2 separate regions of the Homo sapiens genome follow, and region 1 is linked to region 2. Evidence: fine-mapped expression QTL. A gene starts in region 2. The other region holds a variant in brackets. All regions are shown on one strand. Distances are from middle to middle.

What was found. PIP is the estimated chance that this variant, and not a neighbour inherited with it, causes the effect. A credible set is the group of variants that fine-mapping cannot tell apart.
Region 1: its variant is the best candidate, but not a certain one, in a credible set for the expression of KLRK1 in whole blood (TOPMed, PIP 0.76).

Annotation. Positions count from the first base shown.
Region 1 is chr12:10,277,601-10,282,996 of GRCh38, reverse strand. LOC105369656 (a long non-coding RNA gene) reads left to right here. Exons shown (of 2, transcript XR_931353.3): 2 at 2,402-2,562. It also overlaps a transcript of KLRD1 not described here. Among named protein-coding and RNA genes, the nearest start is that of KLRD1, 28 kb to the left of the region's middle. The variant T/C (reference allele first, on the strand shown) is at 2,065.
Region 2 is chr12:10,387,047-10,392,442 of GRCh38, reverse strand. It overlaps KLRK1 (killer cell lectin like receptor K1), which reads left to right and starts at 2,402. Exons shown (of 8, transcript NM_007360.4): 1 at 2,402-2,500; 2 at 3,568-3,672. The coding sequence starts at 3,633. KLRC4-KLRK1 (KLRC4-KLRK1 readthrough) reads left to right here. Exons shown (of 13, transcript NM_001199805.1): 6 at 552-608; 7 at 3,568-3,672. The coding sequence starts at 3,633. The region is part of intron 3 of KLRK1-AS1 (KLRK1 antisense RNA 1); the gene reads right to left.

The DNA of each region.
Region 1 (5,396 bases), 110 kb after region 2:
AATACATCAACCTACCTTGAATAATATCTACTACACTCTTGTTTCCCTGACAATTTCTCTGTCTTTATTTCTACCTATTTCTGCTCAGTCCCTCCCTCTGATCTAGCCCCAATGCTACTTCTCAAACAAACCATTCAGTCTTAGGTTGTAGAGACTGTCCACTATTTGAACAGTTCCTTGCTCAAATATTTTAGAGACTCTCTACGTCAAACGTCGCTCATTTGACATTACTCAAATGACACCTCCTTTGGAATGCCTTCCTTGAACACATCTTCTAACTTTGTACCCACATCATTATGTATGCTCTACAATATTTCTTACAAAAGAGAAAGAAGCCAAAGTTCAGTCACAGGACCAATAACTTAAAGCCAAAATATAAAGTGGCATACCATTTTAAACATAATACTATATATGAACTTTATAGTAATTATATTTTTATTTGCCAGATGTGGTGGCTCACACCTGTAATCCCAGCACTTTGGGAGGCTGAGGCAGGCGGATCATCTGAGGTCAGGAGTTCGAGATCAGCCTGACCAACATGGAGAAACCCCATCTCTACTAAAAATACAAAATTAGCCGGGCATGGTAGTGCATGCCTGTAATCCCAGCTACTCAGGAAGGCTGAAGCAAGAGAATCACTTGAAGCCGGGAGGCGGAGGTTGTGGTGAGCCGAGATCATGCCATTACACCCCAGCCTGGGCAATAAGAGTGAAACTCAGTCTCAAAAAAAAAAAAAAATGTATGTATACATATGTGTATATGTTTTTATTTGATATTTGTAACTTTATGGAGAATGTATTTTATTATATAATGCTGACATTAAAAAATTATAGGCAATGTTAGAGAAATCAAATATTTATATTTTTATAAAAATAATGAATAGAAGAGTGACATATAACGATCAGAGTACTTTATTCTCAAATTCACAAAAATGATAAACCAGAAGATTAAAACTAGAAGAGATTAGTGGTTATTGGTAGTTTTAACAGAATTCAGATTAGAAGGCTACATTTGTATGAGAATTATTGTTTCTCAAGACTACAGAATTCTATTTATGTAACCAAAACAATTAGAATAATTCAAATACTGCCGTGTAAGTTTATGACCAAGGTTTCCCTCAATTTCCCTCTAAATTGGATATATAGTCTTGCTCTTCACCTGCTTCCCCGGAGTCTCCAATTATGTAAGTAATTCTCAGATAATCGTCTCTTAGTCATGTTCAGTCACGGGAATGTGTCATTTCAGGAATTCAAATTCCTAAATCTATATAATAACAAAATTTTTGAATTTTATGCAAAGCTAAAATTTTTCTTTTTCCTTTGGCTCCAACTGAACTCAGATGAGAAAATCAGCACAGAAAAAGGTAGTGTAGATGATTCCTCTCTTTGTCTCGGGAGAGAATCTCAGGGGGTTCTTGGATACATCCCTGCGGAGCCCTGCAACTACAACTCCTGACATGGGCAATGAACCTGCACTTGTGTGTTGTGTGGTTTTGATTCTTCCTCACCCTCAAACCAGGTGTCTCATATTTTCTGTTAGAGCGCTATATCCCACCTATCACTCTTCATGCATGGCAGCTGTCTTAGTATACTATTGCTGCTGTAACAAACAAGCACAAATTTAGTAAGAAAAACAACAAAAATTATTCTCTTACAGTTTTAGAGGGTTGGAGTCTGAAAAGTCTTATGGAGCTAATATCAAGGTTACAGCAGGGCTGAATCTGTTCCTCTCCTCATCCAGCTTCTCATGTCTGCCAGCGTTCCCTCACTTGTGGTTTTGTCTTTCCAGCTTCTGTTCCCATGATTGCACTGCCTCCTCCTTTTCTGTACTCAAATCTCCCTCTGCATCCCTTTTATAAGGATACTTGGGGTTACATTTTAAGCTGACTTTGATAATCCAAAATAATCCTTCAATCTCAAGATCCTCAATCTCTTCTCACTTCTCCTAAGTATCTCTCGCCCTATAAGGTAGCATTCACAGCTTCCAATGATTATGACCTGGATATACTTGGAGCCATTATTCAGCCTACTATAGAATCTAGGATGAGTCCAGGTTATTCCCTGC[T/C]CTCATCTGGACCCCTTTTACCTACAAGAAACATTCACACATAGTTTATTATATGGATGTGCAACGGGTTCCCAGTGGATCTTTCACAACTCTACCACCACAGGCTTCTGGGGGCAGGATTCTCAACACCTGGTTTTCAAACCACACCTCACCTCCATTCTCCATGCTTTTTTGCTGCATTCTGTGCAGCTGAGCTCTGACAACTGTATCACACAGTCTTCCTCACCCTCTGGCTTCTGTCTGTTTTCAACCATTGGAAAGCATTGGTAGGAGAAGAGAAGCTGGGATGAGAAAGTGGAAAAATTATATAATTCTCTAGCTCCTTCCTCATTTTCAGGTCCTGGAAATGGCTAGAATCTGTCCTGAACTCTTGGCATCTTCTGATACTCAACGATGGAGCACGGCGTGAACATCATCCTGCTGCCCTACACAATATTGTCTAGACTATGGGTAGCTAAAAAATCTATTTGCAATTAATAATAAAGAAATAAAAACAAAGTTCTGATTAAGTATTCTGCTGTATATTTTCCTAGAATATTGGCTACTTAAATGTTTTCCATATAATTATTAAATAAATATTTATTCTGAAGCGGTCCATCTCTATTCTGATCTAGCCCATGTTGAATTTTTTCTTCAGAAAGGAAAAGAGATTTTTCTCCTGCATTTAATCCAGTGATTATTTTTCATTTAAACATCAGGCATCTGGTTAATACACTCAAGGTGTGCAAAAAGTGTGGCTGACACATCATTTCACTGTACGTTCCTCTGTACAGAACACTTCCAACCACAGTGTTGCTAGCCCTGGAAAGAACATTTAGCACCTAGACCACCGATGTTATTGTAACGATTGTTGGTAATTCTAACTTGTGTCATGGGAAAGGAGAAAGACATTTCTGATGAAAAATAATAAAATTCTACTGCAAGAGATATTGAAAGTCAAATCTGTGTATCTGGCCCAGAAGCAGTAGGTTTTACTTAACAGAGGAGAAGGAAATCAAAACTGAGATTTGCAAGCCTGGATGTGGTGACCACTATTAACTATCACATTAGTGTCATTATCATTTGGACAAGTAGGACCACAGGTAACAACATTAGCTTCAGAATCATAAAAGGATTTTTTGTTGGAAGAGGAAAGAGGGAGGAATGTAGAGACAGATAATAATGTGAAATAACATGAGGCAGGAAAAATTTTGATGTAATGAGAATAAGAAATAATATAAGGATGGAAAAATTCTTGATACAAGTTATACATATGATTATGTAAGTATTATAATCATGTTCTGAACATGCATTCTTTGAGATTTTGTCTCAATTGGATGTATTTAGGTAACGTAATTTGTAAACAGAAATAATGGGCAAGTGCATGCATATAAAGAAAACCCCTGAATACCTGTCATACTGCCTATTTATATAAATCAGAATCCTTTACAATCTTGAACTCATTCTGCTTAGAAAAATAAAATGTGATTTGATAATAAGATTTCCAGAAAACACATTCAGGCATTTATACTAGAGAAACAGGAAGCTAGACCATTTTAAAAATCATTTTTCTGAAACTGTAAGTGACTAAAACAGCCATGCATATGACACAGCCACATAAAAGAATGAGATCATGTCTTTTGCAGCAACATGGATGAAGCTGGAGGACATTATCCTAAGCAAACTAACACAGAAACAGAAAACCAAATACTGCATGTTCTCACTTATAAGTGGGAGCTAAACATTGAATACATGTGGACACAAAGAAGAGAACAATAGAAACCAGGACCTGCTTGAGGGTGGAGAGTAGAAGGAGGGTGAGGATCAAAAAACTACCTGTTGGGTAGTATGCTTATTGCCTGGGTAATGAAATAACCTGTAAACCAAATCCCCAGAATACTCAATTTACCCATGTAGCAAATCTCCACAGGTACCCCCTAAACCTAAAATTAAAAAAAAAAAAAAACTGATGCTAACATGTTTTTACAAAAAAAAAAAAAAAGAATTGTAAAACACAATGAAAATAGCATACATATCTGAGAAGCCATTTATCATATTTAACATTCCCTTTAAGAAAGAGTATGCCTCTGTGCAAATTTGCTATATCTAATTCTCCCAGGGAAGAAAGTTGTTCATACAGGAAAAAACAAAACAAAACAAAACAAAAACAGCCATGATTTGCATTACATGTTAAAAGAAGTAACATTTTCTTAGCAATCAGTAGCAAATAACTTTACTTAAGTGGCAGTTTTCGGAAGGATATAATTTAAAACTAAGGACTTACTTTGCAAATAGCAGTAAGTGTTTTTAAATCAATGGTTACCATTAAACACAGCTTATATAGCATACACAAGTTAAGCAATAGGTCAGAAAATAAATAGGAATCAAGACAGCACTAGTTCAGGGACTGTTCTTGAATTCATAATATGTGGACCAAGAAGAGATGAGGAAGGTAGAGTCAGAAATTGCTTTTGTGTAATTTTGAGGAGGCCATACCAAAGCTTAACAATACCAGATGCCTACAGATGGTAGGGAGCATGGAAGTCCACCAAATACTTTAAATATTAGCCTTATAAGTGGCTTTTTTGATAAGACAGGCACCATTTTCAGACTGTAAATGGCTTGGAAACCTGAAAACCTGACATGGATTATTTTCACAGGTCAAATGGAATGGCTTGAGTTGGCTGATAAGACTGGAATAGTAATACTATCACCTAGGAAAGCGCACACAGAGTGAGGCTCAACGGACAGCTACAAGAGAGGGTCAAATATCCATTGTAGTTAATCTGCCAAAAGTGAGTAGGGGCAATACCCTGTGCAATGTGGTCTCCTCCTCCAGAAAACAATAGGATCATCTTAGGCAGGGGCCACAAGTCTGGCATGCAGTGGAAGCCTCTGCATAAGAAACAGTCCTTCACTCTCTGCCAGTCTATGATGGTCGCTGTGTTGTCATGTCCAGAATAACGATAAATCCAGGCAGCACTGGTAGAGATCAAATAGTGCACAGACTTTAAACCTTTCACAAAATTTAACCTGAAAGGAATCACAGATGTACATGTAAAATACAGATGTCCACATTCTCTGATGAGACCAGTTGGAATTAAGCTGTTGATTGAGTCTGCACTAACTGATCAATATTTTCTGTAATCTAAAACTTTTCTAAAACATAAAGTCTACTAATTTTTAAAAATCAGAGGGACTAATTGAAGTAATATCATAAAATAAATAAAAATTATAATTTCTAAATAGTATATCACAGTTAAGATTGTATTCAAATACATTTTAATTGTGATTCTCAGAATCACCTGTGAAATATTTTTATACAATTTTAGAAAAGAAATAAGTGAAGTAAA
Region 2 (5,396 bases):
TTCTCAACTAATGAAAGTAATTAAATAGTTTATTGTGGTGATGGATGTTCTCAAATGACTTGAGCCCAGGCTGTTTGCAAAATATTGTAATTTTTCTTCTAACAATAGTTTTTGAAAGTTATATAGATACGTCTATATGAAGTTTGTTCAGGTACTTTTATAGTCAAATTATTCTTTCTGCAGAAGTTAATTGCGTTGGTTTTATTTCACTTATTAGAAAGTATTTTATCTGAAAACTATGCTATGTCCTTTTGCAATTCACATAGAATAAACCAGTACAAATGCCCAGCAAATCCCCAATAAGTTTACTATCATGACTACAGCAAAGTGAGTGTATGTTCAACATTGAGAAAGAAATTGGAGTTTTAACATACTATTTCTTTATCTAACTAATTGTTTTAACCCGACATACAGGACCCATTTTAGAATTTTCTTCTTTAAGAATCCTTTCCACACTCTGTCAGTTGGTTTAGGGACCTTTATATATGACAATAAAACTCTCCCTGGTGCTTAGCTTTATCATGGTATTTATTTCAGAAATCTTCTTTTAGGTATGTGTGGGGACTTCCCAGTTGGCTGTAAGTTGCCATTTGAACTAAACGAAATAGGTAGGATATTCAAATGTTCTTTTTTATCCTATTCCTATCCCCCTTTTCTCAATTCTGTATTTAAGAGACAATCTCTATTCAATCGAAAACTACATATATAAAAATAACTCTTCAGGAAATTGTGATTCAGGTTTTTCCCATAAAAAGCCTGCATTTACTCATTTATTCATTTCCTTTCAAAAACCAAATATTTGTTAAAATGTAGTTGTTAGAAAATATCAGCCTATATTTCCTCTATATAGATCTATTTTTACTATATAAAATAGCTAATAGAAAATGTTGATTAGCTGAAAAGAATCTTGGTATGTCAGAAAATAACATATTTTCTTCAACTTGTTTTATATTCACCTATCTTGTTTAATTTTGAATTTGTTTTATACTTATTCATTTTATATCACCTAAACTAAAAAGTAATTTCCAGCTGGGTGTGGTGGCTCACGTCTGTAATCTCAGCACATTGGGAGGCTGAGGCAGGAGGATCACCTGAGGTCAGGAGTTCGAGACCAGCCTGACTAACATGGTGAAACCTCGTCTCTACTAGAAATACAAAAATTAGCCAGGTGTGGTGGCACATGCCTGTAATCCCAGTTATTCTGGAGGCTGAGACAGGAGAATTGCTTGAACCCAGGTGGCGGAGGTTGCAGTGAGCCGAGATCGCCCCGTTGCACTCCAGCCTGGACAACAAGAGTGAAACTCCATCTCTTAAAAAAAAAAAAAAAAAAAGTAATTAATTTCCATGTGGGCAAAAACTTTCTTTTGGATTGTTTACTTTGACATTCTCAAGATCTAGAAAAGTGCATAGCAAATAGCATTCGCTAAAGAAAAAAAATGTTGAATAAATTTATTGTCCAACTTTAACACATCACCACATGAAAGCTGTTTTCCTTCCTTATATTTCAGAGTTTTAAGATTAATAGCTTTGGTTTTTGTTAAAATGTTATAATGTGTTCATCTTATATTACTTTATATGATGTCTTATGTTAGTATTTTAAATTAATAAACATAAAATATATATTTAGCTTATCTTGTTCATTGGTATCAATTCATATATTATTCTTATGTATACTGGGGTATATATTTAAGTTTCTAATTCTCCTGCATATGATGTAGATATGACAGAGATGCAATTTCATGTTTTTTATATTAAAATTTAAAAATTCCCAGGACTAATTTTTTGTAACTTAAAGGCCAGTGTGATAGTAACCCAGGACAAATTATTGAATAGGAGCTAATTTCCCACTTTATCTGCAATGTTACCTTATATTTTTTAATCTATGCACATGACTTTTTCTTGTCTGTATTTTTACCCTTCTCAATTTGTCTATCTATGCCCCACATGCCACTTTGCCTTTATTAATACGGTTTTAACATAGGTCTTACTATCTAGTAAAACAAGGCTCCCACATTTTCTTCATCTTCAATTGTGACTTTCCTAGTCTTGACTTTTGTAATTTAATGTACATGTAGAATTCTGCTTTGTAAGTTCTACAACAAAACCTGAGGTATTAACTGGAATTGAATTGAATCTCTAAAATATTTAGGATTAAATGGCATCATTTAAATTCATCATTTTCAAATCCTAAAATGTTATTTAAAATAATGGCAAAACTACAATTACTTTTGCACCAACCTAACATTTATCCAACAATGGGTGGTCTTAACTCTTTTACCAAATTAACAATATTTTTGTAGTGATAAGGCGGAAGTACTGTGGTTTATGTTTTTCCACAGGAAGATGAGATTATAATATTTGTCACATCTTTCTCAAAGATAGAAATTCACTAAGTATCTCCACTTTCAATTCTAGATCAGGAACTGAGGACATATCTAAATTTTCTAGTTTTATAGAAGGCTTTTATCCACAAGAATCAAGATCTTCCCTCTCTGAGCAGGTGTGTGTATGTGTGTATGTGTGTGTGTTTATTATTCAAGATATGAGAAATTATATTTCAACCTCAAAAAAATAAAAATATTTACACTATAAGGTAATTCTAATTGTTTCTTAGATGCTTGAATAGAACTCCTGAGGATACGGAATGCTTATCATTTCTGATGTATATTCTATCACTGTATCTGATGATAGGTAATTAGGATATACTTATTGAAGAATCAGAAGTTGTAATATTACTATAAGAAGAAGCCTTGTCTCTAAGCAAAACTAGAAAAATGAATCTTTACATTTAGGATGAGAAGAATTGAGATTCAATTTAAATTGTCAAATTTTTGAGTTTTCTGATGCTGTAGGGGGCACTTACCTTTGATACACATCTTTACATGCAAGGTGAAACAAGTTATATCTGTGCTTTCCAACTATCATAATCAAATATGAAATAGCTTTTATTTTTGAAATCTAAGCACTATGCTTATTTATTAAATGGTTTTTTCTGGAAGCTCTGCTGTGCATTGCTAAGATGTTACTATATAAACATGTGAGATTAGTTTTGTTAATGATGATGGTGATGATAATTTGTTGATGATGATGATATGGGCACGTTGGATTAAAATGCACTAGAAAAGGACATTCAACAAAAGTGCATATAACTTACCTGAGTTTAGCTTGCAGAAAGAAAACTAAATTATTGCCAGATAAAATAAACAACTGGAAACACTTGATCTTAGCTAAAAGGCCAAGAAGCAATAAACGACTATAAACAGAAAACTGGGTGTGTTGTTATCTAATATCAGTAAAGTAAAATATTGGTATTAAATATCTCAATGTAGGTGAATTAATAGGTTCATTATATTGTTATGACATTTTGAAGTAATTGGCGATTATTTTACAACCAAGAGAAATGTATAAAATTAATTTTGCCTGGCTTTATGTGAATTGTCATTTCTATTCTTTTCTTAAAGGCATGCACAGGGGAAAAGTTTCTGCATTTTACTTTTCTATTCAAAATATTTTATCTCACCACGGGAAAGAGAACAAAAAACAAATGCCCAGTTTTATTTTATTCAGGAATCCTTTGTGCATTGAAGACTTTAGATTCCTCTCTGCGGTAGACGTGCACTTATAAGTATTTGATGGGGTGGATTCGTGGTCGGAGGTCTCGACACAGCTGGGGTATGTTTTTACCACATAAGTGTGTAGTTTTGTTTTTATACAATTTTAAGATACCAAGAATTTCATACAAGCATATAAGGCATAGGCAAGCAATTTACTCTGATTCTTTTCATGTTCTATTTATGTTGATTTCATGTTATGTTCATATTGTATTTTAAATCAAGTCTTCCAAAACTTAAAAACTTTTTTCCCTTTATTTTATTAACTATATTATGGTAAAGTCGCTCACAACTTGGGACAGCTTGAAATAGTGAAATAGATGTGGAGTCAGACTTGAATTTTACTCAAACTTTTACCGCTCTCTAGATTTGAAGGGTCAATTTGCAACCTCTGTGTAGTTTAGTTTAGTTTCTTTTTCTATCAAATACAGGCATGAAACATTCCATATTTATCTTAGATTTGTGTAATATTCAAATCAACTGACATGTATGTTAAAGCACTTTTTATCCTAAAGGTGTTTATAAATTTATAACTTATTCACAGTTGGTAACATTATATTAAATAAGCTTTATGATTTTGGCCATCTCTAGCATTCAATTTCTTCATCCATAAAGTGATACCTACTCTCTTTACTCCATATGTAAAATAACTGAGTTAGGTATTACATGCGCAATCAATGTCTAATTTTACCTATAAAATATAATTCATATTATCATTTAATTTATAAAAGGCTTTTGTACAACAAACCCCCGTGACATGAATTTACATATGTAACAAACCTTCGCATGCACCCCTGAACCAAAAATAAAAGTTTAAAAAAGGCTTTTAAGTAAATATTAATCATCAGTAAATAATTAATATTTCAAGAGAGCAAAATGATTCTTTAGGTATTTTGTTCAGAGGCAAGATTATCTGTCTTTGTTCTAAATCATTAGACCCCACTATTTTAGCCTATGTATGTCCTTCATTATAAAGAAAATTAGATGGCTGGGCACAGTGGCTCATGCCTATAATCCCAGAAATTTGGGAGGCTGAGGTGGGTAGATCACCTGTGGTCAGGAGTTCGAGACCAGCCTGGCCAATATGGTGAAACCCCGTCTGTACTAAAAATACAAAAATTAGCCAGGTATGGTGGCACAAGCCTGTAATCCCAGCTACTCAAGAGGCTGAGGCAGGAGAACCGCTTGAACCCAGGAGGCGGCGGTTGCAGTGAGCCAATATCACGCCATTGCACTCCATCTCAAAAAAAAAAAAAGAAAAGAAGAAAATTAGACACACTGCTATTTACTAAAAGCTTACTAAATGATTGATGTTATTGATGCTAAGTTCATTATATTTTTATTTTATTTTTAAAATACCCATACTGGATTGTGACAGTATCCTTTTCTTTTTTATTTCTTTCGTCTTTTGCAAATTAGGAAAACTGGGATGCAAAAGCTAGGTTATTTGTGAAGTTATCAAGTTTGTATATGTGGATCTGTGATTTAAATACATGTCTTTCTCCCTACATCTGCCTTTTCACTAACCAAGTCCCTTTCTGGTAATGTTAGGTTTCATTATACATTACGAATTAACTAATTTTAATAGTATATAGGATTTTGCTAAGGGTACTTTCCATGGCATAAATATAGTTTTATTTATATAGTAAAGTGTAAACATAATAATGTAGTACTATAAAACAAAAGTAAGTTCATGTTGTACTTTAAAAAGGATAGTCAGGGGAAGTACATAGATGGAAATGGCAAGCTGAATTTTTAAAATTTATGCCCCAAATGGCAGAAAGG